2 separate regions of the Homo sapiens genome follow, and region 2 is linked to region 1. The links come from fine-mapping of genetic effects on gene expression. A gene starts in region 1. The other region holds a variant in brackets. All regions are shown on one strand. Distances are between the middles of the regions.

Region 1 (5,378 bases):
GTACCCATCCCACAGCCAGGACGCCGGGCAGCTCCACGACCCAGAGTCCCTTTGTAACGTCAGCTGCACTGGAGGTAGATTGCCAGGTAAATTTCAGTACCTAAGTCCCATATGAATTTCAGGTCAACAACAAATAAATTTTGTTATAAGTTTAGCCCCAATATTGCCTAGGACATGCTTAGACTAAAAATAAGTGCCTTGTTTATCTATAATTCAAATGTAACTAATCCTCCTGTATTTTGACTTGCTGAACCCAGCAAACTGAATTTGAAGGGTGTTTCCTGAAACTATTTGAGTGCTCCTCAGCCACATTCGGTTTGGAACAAGGAGCCAAGGTCCAATTTCCAGGCAAAACCAAATGGTGCCCTTGCTCCCACCCAGGGACGGTGCCAGGAATATGCCAGCCATCCCTGGACCCGAGAGTCACCAGGCACGGGCCCTGCTTAGGGGTTGATCATCTCTGAAACCTTCCAGGAAGGACCACTTTGGAGATGTCATCTGACCTCCTTTCCTGGGAAGCTGCGGGCCTGAAGCCATCTTCCAGGATTTCTCTCTGTAGCTGTAGAGCTAACTAACACCAGGCCTCCGGGCCAGGAACTGGCAGAGGATTCTGAGGGCATTTTAGCCTCAGGCAAAGCCTCCCTGACCCCCCATCTGCAGGACTTGCAAATGGACACTGCTTCCAGCCCTCCTGATGAGGACACGATTATTCTTCTCCACTGGTGCCAAAGCAAAATAAAATTCCATTTGCTTTTCTGACACATTAAACAAGAACATTAGGAGTTCTGCAGGGGTGACCATATTTTAATATGCTTGGAAACCGTGGCAGGGGAGGTTCATTCCCTTGCCTGTTTGTACAGGAGAAACAGTGAAAGAAATCTGAGTCAACCAGGCTGCAGGGAGTAGAAGGCTGAGACTTTTTCTTTTTTTTTTTTTTAATACAAGGTGGTGCGTAAAAGTAATAAAGAGGTCACAGGGAAAATCTGTATCATGATGAATCCAGTTATTGCAAAAGAGCTGTTTCCTTCAATGTTCGAAAGCTGATAATACACGTGCACAGGCGTCTGCTTCTAATTTCAGGGAAGCTAAGCCCAGGAGCGACCGCTTTGGAGGCCATCTGCATGGAGCTGGCTGTCACCCCTGGTGCACGCGAGTGGTGGGGTCTGTACCCCGGAGGCCCTGCCCCACCAGGCAGGACGAAGGACAAAGCACTCCTTCCCTTCTCCAGCACACTCTGTCCTTTGCACCCCCTCAGGGTCGCACAGGTCATTCCTGCTTCCTGGAAAGACTCATCCCTTCAAACTGCTTTTTAAGCTCCTACTCAACCCTCAAGACCCATCTCACAGAGACCTTTAATTACCTAGGGTTGAGCTAGTCCTGCCTTCCCCTGCAGACGGCCCCATTATGTTCCAGGCAGCTTCATTCACAATTGTCTCCTCTTTGAATGTGGCTTCCCCAGGAGCAGGGACCAGTTTAATTTGAGTCCTGTCCCCCATGTGTACCGTACAGTAGGCAGAATGTGGTGCTGAAGTAATTAATGTCTCTAAATATTGAATCCTTCCCACAACCCCAGAGGAGATCCAATTCTGATGTCAGTGGAATAAAATGCAGTTCAAGTTCAACTTGAATTGATTCAGATGGTTTTCAGCACAGCCACCCACCGTTCCCAGGCCCCGGCCCCTTGGCTGGCCTCTTCCGCTCCAAACCGGTGGCTTCTTCCTCGGGGAAGGTGCTTCAGGCAGCAGGGGTGCCAGGACAGAGGCCTGGAAGATTCTGTACTACGCAGCATGGGGGCCACATTCTGTTGCTGGAAGGGAGTCACAGGCTTGTCCAGCTCAAGCGCAGGGTCAGTGAGAGTCTATCCTCACACTGTCAGAGCCAGCTGGGCAGCATGCCGGGGCAGCTGTCCTCCAGACGGGGACTCAGAAGCTTTGTGCTTTAACTTCATGACACCGGCATCCAAGCTCACAGCTCTGGGCCCCACAGTGGGCAGGGAATGGACCGCAGGGTTGAGCCTTTGATCACAGTGCTCGTGCTTCCCCCTGTGCCGTTGCAGGCCTCAGTTTCCCCAGCTCTTTTGCCTGCACACCTGGGTCCCACATCCCCAGCCTGAGACAGGATCTCCTTGTCACCGTGGCTCTGCCACGTCTGGAGGTTTCCTGACCGCGCTCAGGCACCTCTCTTGGAACCTGTTTCCGCATCAGCAAGGACAGGCGAGGCCAGGGAGGAGGAAGAAGCTAACTCTCGTTAAAAGAAAAACTTTACACAAATTAAATCTAACAGAGTTTAACTGAGCAAAGAATGGTTCGGGAATCAGTCAGCCTCCCGAACCAGAAGAGATTCAGGGAGATTCCGGCACTGCCGTGGGACCAAAGAAGATTTATGAACAGAAAAAGTAGGGTGACTTACGGAAGACAGAGCGCAGTCCAGAAGCAGCCACTTGGCTCCAGCTTAGGGTCTGTCTTACTTGATCAGGGAAAACTCGATGACTGGCACAAGAGTAGGTTACAGACTATTTACACGTCCAGTTTGGTACAGTTCACTGTGTACAGAAAGACTTTTTTTTTTTTTTTCAGAAAGAGTCTCGCTCTGTCACCCAGGCTGGAGTGCAGTGGCGTGATCTTGGCTCACTGCAAGCTCCGCCTCCTGGGTTCATGCCATTTAGGCTGAACTTATGTGAGGAGGCAGCTTTAGGCTAAGCTTATCACTCTGAATTCTCAGTGGCATGTCGGAGTTTGCAAGAAAGGTGGATTTCCCATTCATGCCAACTCCTCCAGCATGGCTACAGATCGCGGCTCATCAACAACTCACACGTTCCTCCCAGGTGTTAGGGCAGGACTCAGAACTGGAGGTCCGTGCACTGGCTCGTCTATGCTCCAGCCTAGAAATGTCCCCGAGGCATGGCCAGAGTCCTCCAGGCTGGGGAGCAGCGGAGGCCAGGCCATGCCAGATCTGTCGTCTGGGTTTAGCTTCGTTGCAGTGAGTGTTTACAGCTGAGTGGTGCTCTGGTGACCGTTGCTCTACAATGATCCCTCTGGCAGCTCCACGGAAAACAGCAATAGTTGTCCAATTCAGGAGTGAGTTTCCACATCCATCCCTGCTAAGGGAGTGCACAGTGATGGTGACTGAGAAGCTCCTCAGAGCACCAGTTCTGAAGTCACACACGTTGGGTTTGGGACTGGGATCCAACAACTCCTTGTTGTGGGACAGTGTGCAGTCCTTGTCTGGTGACCCCACTTCCCGGTCTGCAAAATGGGATCCTGAGACCTGCCCCTCTTAGGGCTGGGAGGACCCGACCAGCAAAGCCCACACGGCCTCAGGGCCAGGCAGGTCCCAGAGTAAAGGACGTGCCAGCGTAATTGTTGCCCTGGGTGTTGTTAGTGATATCACTGAGAGCTGATATTTTCCTTTCTCCACTGCCACCTCCACGAAGACAGCACACATTTGCTTAAGAAATAGCAGCTAGAGCTTGGGCTGAACTGTGAAACATAGCAAGTGTGCTATATCAATCAGAGAACACTTTTCCCTGGCACCAGTGATTTCTCGGAGAACTGTGAGCCCAGGCATCAGCTGTGATTCCATGAGTGATGGAGGGCCAAGAAGCAGAATGACACCAAGGGACCTTTTGTAAACACCCGCAGGAGCTCTCTGCATCCACGACAGGAAAATAAAGACACAAACTCTTCTCTGAAATTAGGGAAAAGGAAATAGAGAAAGTAGATGAATGCTTTAAGGAAATTTTTGAAGATAGAAAACTAAAAAACTATTAATTTAAAAATAAATGAAGTACACAAGCTCTAAATAATGGCATCTTTCCCCCAAACTGTCATAGAAGAAAAGCTAATGTGTTATTTTAAAGGATGACTCTCAGATGACCCTTTAAATTCCATTTATATTCTAGTGATTAAACAAAGCGATTTATTAGAGTTTTACAGAGGCATTTTCTCCCTGTGTCTTACAACGCAGACCACATCAAAAGCACCCATTTACTGCCATTATTTCAATACTGATTTTATTTTATGATCTTGATTTGTGATTTATAACTTTGTTTTTCTTGAGATTCCCGTCTTCATGTTGTTGGACCTGTGTGTAAAGCAGGAAGCAGCTCCCTCCCTTGGATGTACTAAAATAGTTACTGCTTCACATGCGTGATGCTCCTGGCTACCTTCCTGCCCCTGATACAAGCCATGCCGAGGTGGGGAGGGGTCCAGCCCACGCAAGCAGGGAGGGAAGCCTGTGGTCTCCCCATTGGCAGAGGAAAGGGGTGCGGACGCAGGCACCTGTCCCAAGAGGGAAGAAGGCAGATTCAGGATGGAATTAGCAAGACATGCTCCCCGACTGATTGTTACTTTCAAGAAAGCAGCCGGCCGCACTGCCAGCTTTGATAATTGACTTTATTCTACCATTGATGGATAAATTGACTGATAGATGTCAGACAGAGGCATGACCGAGGTGGGACCAGGTTTGTGCAGAAAGAATGATCGGCTCTACTGATTCAGTAAAATTCATAGTTTCAATAAGCCACAAACACACACCCCCCAAGCACTAAACACACAGGCACACACACGCATGCACACGTACATGGGTACACACACACACACACACACACACACACACACACACGATACTTTCAGGAAGAGCTGAGTTCATGATTCCAAAGCTGGAGGAGTGTCTCAGATGTTTCCTTCTGAGACCTTGGATGACTGGCGTGGGTGCCGGGGCATGGGGGCAGCTGCTGGCCCATCAGAGACAGGCCTGCCCATCAGGAACTTATATAGAAACCACAATGTGGCCAGGCTGGATGTGCTGTCTTTGCCTTAATCCCCAGCTTCATGTGCCCCAGATTCTACTGTGACCAGGACTGGCCTCTCATACAGCACTCAACCGAGCCCAGTGTCCCCAGCTGCGTCCAGGGTCGCCAAAGTCCCTGCTCTCCTCTGTGCAGGGAAACACTCAGGCCCCGCAGGTGCCAATCTCTTCAGGAATAGTCAGGAATAGCACAGGCATCTGCTCTGGAGCCTCAGCCTTGAGTGGTCCATGGAGAGGAGGCGGTGCTGGCCTGCACACCATTCCCTCCTGGAAGCCGATTGCTGGGAGGCTCCACCTCAGCCTGCTATCCAGATCCATGCTCCACCCAGCAGTCCCCATGTGCCTTAGAACAAGGTCAAGAGAGGTATTCATGCCCAGGCCATGGTGAAAACCCGTCTGCTTGTTCTCTTTAGTAATTTCAATTATTTTATTTTTTTGTGAAAATTACACATGTGCATTAGGAAATTTTTTTTTAGTACAGAAAGCAACATTATCACCCCAATCTCATCCCCCAACAGGAACTTGCCTTCATACAAGGAAACAACCCCAGACGGCCTCCACCAGCCAGG
Region 2 (5,378 bases), 40 kb before region 1:
AAAGGAAAATACATCATGTTCATATTGGAAGACTCGATGTTTATAAGATGTTAGTTCCCCCCAAATAGATTTATAGCTTAAAATCAATCTCAACAGAAGTCCAAGCAGAATCTCTTTGGAGGAATTTACAAGCAGATTCATAAAAAAATGGAAATGACTTAGAACAGCCAAAGCAAACTTTCAAAGAAAGACAGAAGTTGCAGGACTTCAGTACCTTAGTCCAGGCTTACTATAAATCACCAGGAATCGAGACAGCGCAGTGTCAGTGTGCAGAAAGAAAAGCCAACGGGCAGAATAAGATGTCCAGAAATGGATACAGAACTTCTTGGTCAATAGATGTGAAACAAAGATCCTGGTGAAATTCAGTGGGGAAGGGAGATGGTGCTGGAGCAGGTGAGTTATCATTAGAAATATCTTATGCCTGCCTCACACTATACACAAAAAGTAATTCAAGATTCATCACAGACTTATGCATAAGCAGCAAAACCATTAAACTTCTAGAAGAGAACATAGAAGAATAATTCATCATCTTGAGATAGGCATATGTTTCTTAGATGAGACGCAGAAAGCCTAACCACAGAAAACTGATAAAATTGGTCTTTATCATAATTAAAGCATCTGCTCGACAAAAGACACCTCTAAGAAAATGAAAAAGCAAGACATGGGAAGAAAATATTCACAGTGCACATATCTGACAAAGGACACAGATCCAAAATAGATAGGAAAAAAATAGCTCCTACAATTCCAGAAGAAGAAAACAGTCCAAACAAATTGACAAAAATGTATAGAAACACTTCACAAAAGAAAATACACAAATAGCCAAAAGGCACATGCCAAGTTGCTGGCGTCATTAATCACGGGGGGACACACACATGCCAGGTGTTTCCCACTAGGATGGTTGAAATTGAAAAGACTGGCAGCGTGCAGCGTGGGCAAAATTACCGAGGAGCTGGAACAGGCACCCCTGCGTGGTTCCTGGCGCAATCACTTTGGAAGATGTTTTGTTGTTTCTCACAGTGTAACACACGTCTCTACTTCATGATTCTCAAATTCTACTCCTAGGTGTGGGCGGAGGATTACCTAGGTGCCAAGGCAAGAGACTGAGGCACAAACTGTTTCAGTATAATAAAGAAAATAATTAGAATAAGAATAGTCATAATACAAATTAGATATAGAGATGACCATGAAGAATTATCAATCATTATAAACATTATTAATCATTAGCTTTTAATATTACTCTTTGTTGCATCACTAATATAACCTAGGAATAACCGGCGGGTATAGGGTCAGGTGCTGAAGGGACATTGTGAGAAGTGACCTAGAAGGCAAGAGGTGAGCCTTCTGTCACGCCCGCATAAGGGCCGCTTGAGGGCTCCTTGGTCAAGCAGTAACTCAGTGCCTGGGAAGCCACCCTTTACTTAGCAGACTGCGAAAGGCAGTCTCCTTTCTTTGAAGGAGTCAGGGAACACTCTGCTCCACCAGCTTCTTGTGGAAGGCTGGATATTATCCAGGCCTGCCCGCAGTCATCCGGAGGCCTAACCCCCTCCCCGTGGTGCTTCAATGGTCACGCTCCTTGTCCACTTTCATGCTCCTCCCGTACTCCTGGTTCCTCTTTGAAGTTCGTAGTAGATAGCAGTAGAAGAAATAGTGAAAGTCTTAAAGTCTTTGATCTTTCTTATAAGTGCATAGAAGAAAACGCTGACGTATGCTGCCTTCTCTCTCTGCTTCGGCTACCTAAAAAGGAAGGGCCCCCTATCCTGTAATCACGTGACTTGCTTCACCTTGTCAATCACTCAGAAGATTCACCCTTCTTACCCTGCCCCCTTGTCTTGTATGCAATAAATATCAACGCGCCCAGCCCTTTGGGGCCACTACCAGTCTCCGCGTCTTGATGGTAGTGGTCCCCCGGGGCCCAGCTGTTTTCTCTTTATCTCTTTGTCTTGTGTCTTTATTACAGTCTCTCGTCTCCGCACACGGGGAGAACACCCACTAAGCCCCGTAGGGCTGGACCCTACACCTAGGTATGTATTTGGATAAAATGAAAGCAGGTTCACAGAAACATCGGCATAAAAATATTCATAGCAGCTTTTTCATAAGAGTCTCAGACTGGAAACAATTTAAACACTCAACAGGTGACTTTGTTTTATAAACAAACTGTGGACTCTTCATCCACGGGAATATCACTCAGCAATACAAATCCAGCCACTTAGACCTGATCACACAGAGGCGTCTCAGAAGCATTACACCGAGTAAAAGCAGCTACTGAAATCAAGCACACACCCTAACCCTGTTCCATTTCTATAAAGTTTCTGGACAGGCGAGGCCAGTCAATGGAGATGGGCAGCAGGGCAATGGGTACCGCAGGAGGTGGCACAAGGAAGCTTTCAGGGAGGTGACATCTTCCTGATTTTGGTTGTGACGTGTGCTACTGAGGTTCAGTTGTGTCAAAACTCACTGGATTGGACTTTTAAGAACTGTGCTCGTCACTATGAGAAACGAGCCCTCAGTTACGTAACTAATACAACTAACTGAAAAATTATGCATTAATGCTAAAACTCGATTCCTACCAACCCTTAAAAACAGGGCAGTGACTCTGCCTACACCTCTTGGCTTAGGTGTAGCTGCTGTCACCACGGTGGATACCACCTGCGCCATCACCCAGGCCAGGGAAGTGGGCATTAGACAGACAGGGATAGCACTAGGAATAGGGTTAGGGATAGAGATGGAGGTAAGGATAGGAATGGGAGGGAGACAATGATGGAGCTAGAGAAAAGGACAGGAATAAGGATAGA[A/G]AGAGACAGCGACATAGAGATAGAGGTATGGGGAGGTAGATAAAGAGATAAATAGACACAGAGAAAACAGAGTATTTATCCTGAGAACTGGCTGATGTGATTATGCATGTTGCGAACTCCCACACTCCGGCCTCTGTCAACTGGAGCTTCTGGAAGCATAGATGATGTCTAAGCCTCCTGTGAGGTTTAGAGATAATCTATGTTCATGCGAGCACCTCCCACACAGTCAGCATCCCACCGACGGCTTTATGCGCTCATGTCCCCCCAGGCCCAGGGACACCTCCGAACCCAGTGTCCTCACACATCAGAGGCCCTGTAATCAGGGCACTGACACAAACGCACTTTCAGAGGGAAGGTAAATGTGAAGATAGGCTCTGCTTCCTCCTGCACTGAAAATTAGGGGCACTGGCCTTGCGGGGAAGGCTGGGGGAAGCAACACCGCACAGCTGCCATGCCTGCTCTCATCCCCGCAGCCTGCTGTCCCCAAATGTGCTCGATTTCAGAGCATAATGGGCAGAAGGTGTTTCATTTTCCAGAACCCAAGGAAAAAATGTAATATTGAAACAGCGCCGGGGACGGGGTTAAGAAAGAGATCCCTCTGCCGCCACGTGGTGCTGGGTTTGATTTCATTTCCATATGAACTTGTGTCCTTCTCCCAACCTTATTTCCTGCTAATCGGAGGAGCCAGCAGGACCACCCTAGCTTTGCTGGGTTGTGCCGTTACTTTTAATGGCAATATATTCCTATCAGCCAGAAGTCAACTGGAGTTGGGAGGGCACGTCAGGCAAGTGACAAGGGATGGGAGAAGCGTGGGCCCTTCCCCTGCAGGTGGATGACTCCCCAGAAATGCTATTTTCTATTTTCTTTGACATCATTGTCCCCATCAGCTTCCCCCTCACCCATGGAAATTGCCAGTCTCAGGGATGGGCAGCAGCTCTGGGGGCGGCTCTTTGCTTATTCTGCAGGGCCTCAGGGTCAGCAGAGGAGGCATGATTGTCTTTAGAACACCTTAATGGGGTGATGGGAAAGAGATACTGGGCCCAGGACCCTGCGCATCCACCAGTGGCTGCCTCGGAGAGAGGAGGCTGGTTCCAGCCACAGGAGCCCACCAGCGTGTGGTCCTGCCTGTTGCAGACCCGCCCAGGAGGCCAGGAGCAGGCTGGCCAGGAGACCACTGTTTGAGGAAAGACCACTGCGGGGGAAAAGGTGCAAGCAACGCCTTTTGTCATCCAAAAGAAATAAGAGTGATGCTTCTCCCAGGCTCACGTCAGGATGCCTGGCTGTGGTCCTCACAGGCGTGGACACCATGGGACACTCATCCTTGGGGGCCCCCGAGGGAGGAGACACAAGTCAGCATCAGGTTTGTGTGGATGACTGGGACCAGGAGTGGGAGGGACACCTGAACGGGGTGGGGACAGTGTCCACCCTGCAGTGTCTCCTGGCCAGGACCACCTACTCAAGGGGCAGAGTGGGGCTGCTTAGACAGGGCCTGGCACTGCCTGGATTCACCCTCATCACCCACCTCTCTTGGCTACCGGCCAGATACCCTGGCCAGACCCAGCTGGAGCGAGTGCACGGCGGGCATGCACCAGGGTGGGCTTCTCCTGTGCCCCACCAGGTGCCACGCCATGGGAGGTGCCCACATCAGGGGAACCGAGAAAGTGGGAGGGATGCAGGTCTCATGTGCCACACCATGGGAGATGCCCACATCAGGGGAACCGAGAGGGTGAGAGGGATGCGGGTCTCATGTGCCACACCATGGGAGATGCCCACATCAGGGGAACCGAGAGGGTGAGAGGGATGCGGGTCTCATGTGCCATGCCATGGGAGGTGCCCACATCAGGGGAACGGAGAGGGTGAGAGGGATGCGGGTCTCATGTGCCATGCCATGGGAGGTGCCCACATCAGGGGAACGGAGAGGGTGAGAGGGGTGCAGGTCTCACGTGCCACACCATGGGAGGTGCCCACATCAGAGGAACTGAGAGGGTGAGGAGGATGCGGGGACTCTGTGTGCAGCTTTTCCCACTAAATTGTCCCAAATCAAAAGTTTATTTAAAACACGGAATGTAAGGAAAGAAAGCAAAGACAGTGAAGACAGTGGGGCTTGGAGCGCCGCTGTGAGTGGGGACAGAGAACCTGGAGCTAAAGGGGGTGTGCGGGGCCACGGGAGGGGCTTTGTCTCACAGGGTGGGTGGTATTCACTTATGATTCACTTACGAGTTTTCCATCATGATGGGAGTGAGGCAACAGAGAGCAGAGAGAGAAAAACAAACTAAAACACCCCTTCGCCATCTTCACTCTTGTCTGGGAGAGGCAGTTCTATAGGCTGAAAAACCCCAGATCAGAGAACGGCGAAAATGCAGTGGAAGGCTTCATGACCTGCAGGGATGGATGCGGCCTTGGCCTCCCACGACTAAAGGCAGGAGGTCAGCAGAATCATCTTGTTTATTAGTAACGGAATGTGACCTGCATTTCTAGCAGTACAATGTATTCATAAACTGTTCCATAGACTTAAATATATATAGTATTTTCTATACTCACTTTATATTACAAAAGCAAAATGTATTTAAAACAACAAACACAAGG

Direction of the effects. Positions count from the first base shown, and alleles are read on the strand shown. Sizes are in standard deviations (SD) of each study's normalised expression.
For the expression in skin of the gene that starts at base 2,487 in region 1, A is the low allele of the variant in region 2 and G is the other (moderate effect, 0.44 SD a copy in TwinsUK).

Evidence for each region. PIP is the estimated chance that this variant, and not a neighbour inherited with it, causes the effect.
Region 2: its variant is the best candidate, but not a certain one, in a credible set for the expression of LINC01310 in skin (TwinsUK, PIP 0.63).

What each region holds. Positions count from the first base shown.
Region 1 is chr22:48,863,879-48,869,256 of GRCh38, reverse strand. LINC01310 (long intergenic non-protein coding RNA 1310) reads right to left here and starts at 2,487. Exons shown (of 7, transcript NR_038944.1): 1 at 2,410-2,487. RefSeq lists an enhancer at 1-466.
Region 2 is chr22:48,904,299-48,909,676 of GRCh38, reverse strand. No RefSeq gene overlaps it. Among named protein-coding and RNA genes, the nearest start is that of LINC01310, 40 kb to the right of the region's middle. The variant A/G (reference allele first, on the strand shown) is at 2,793.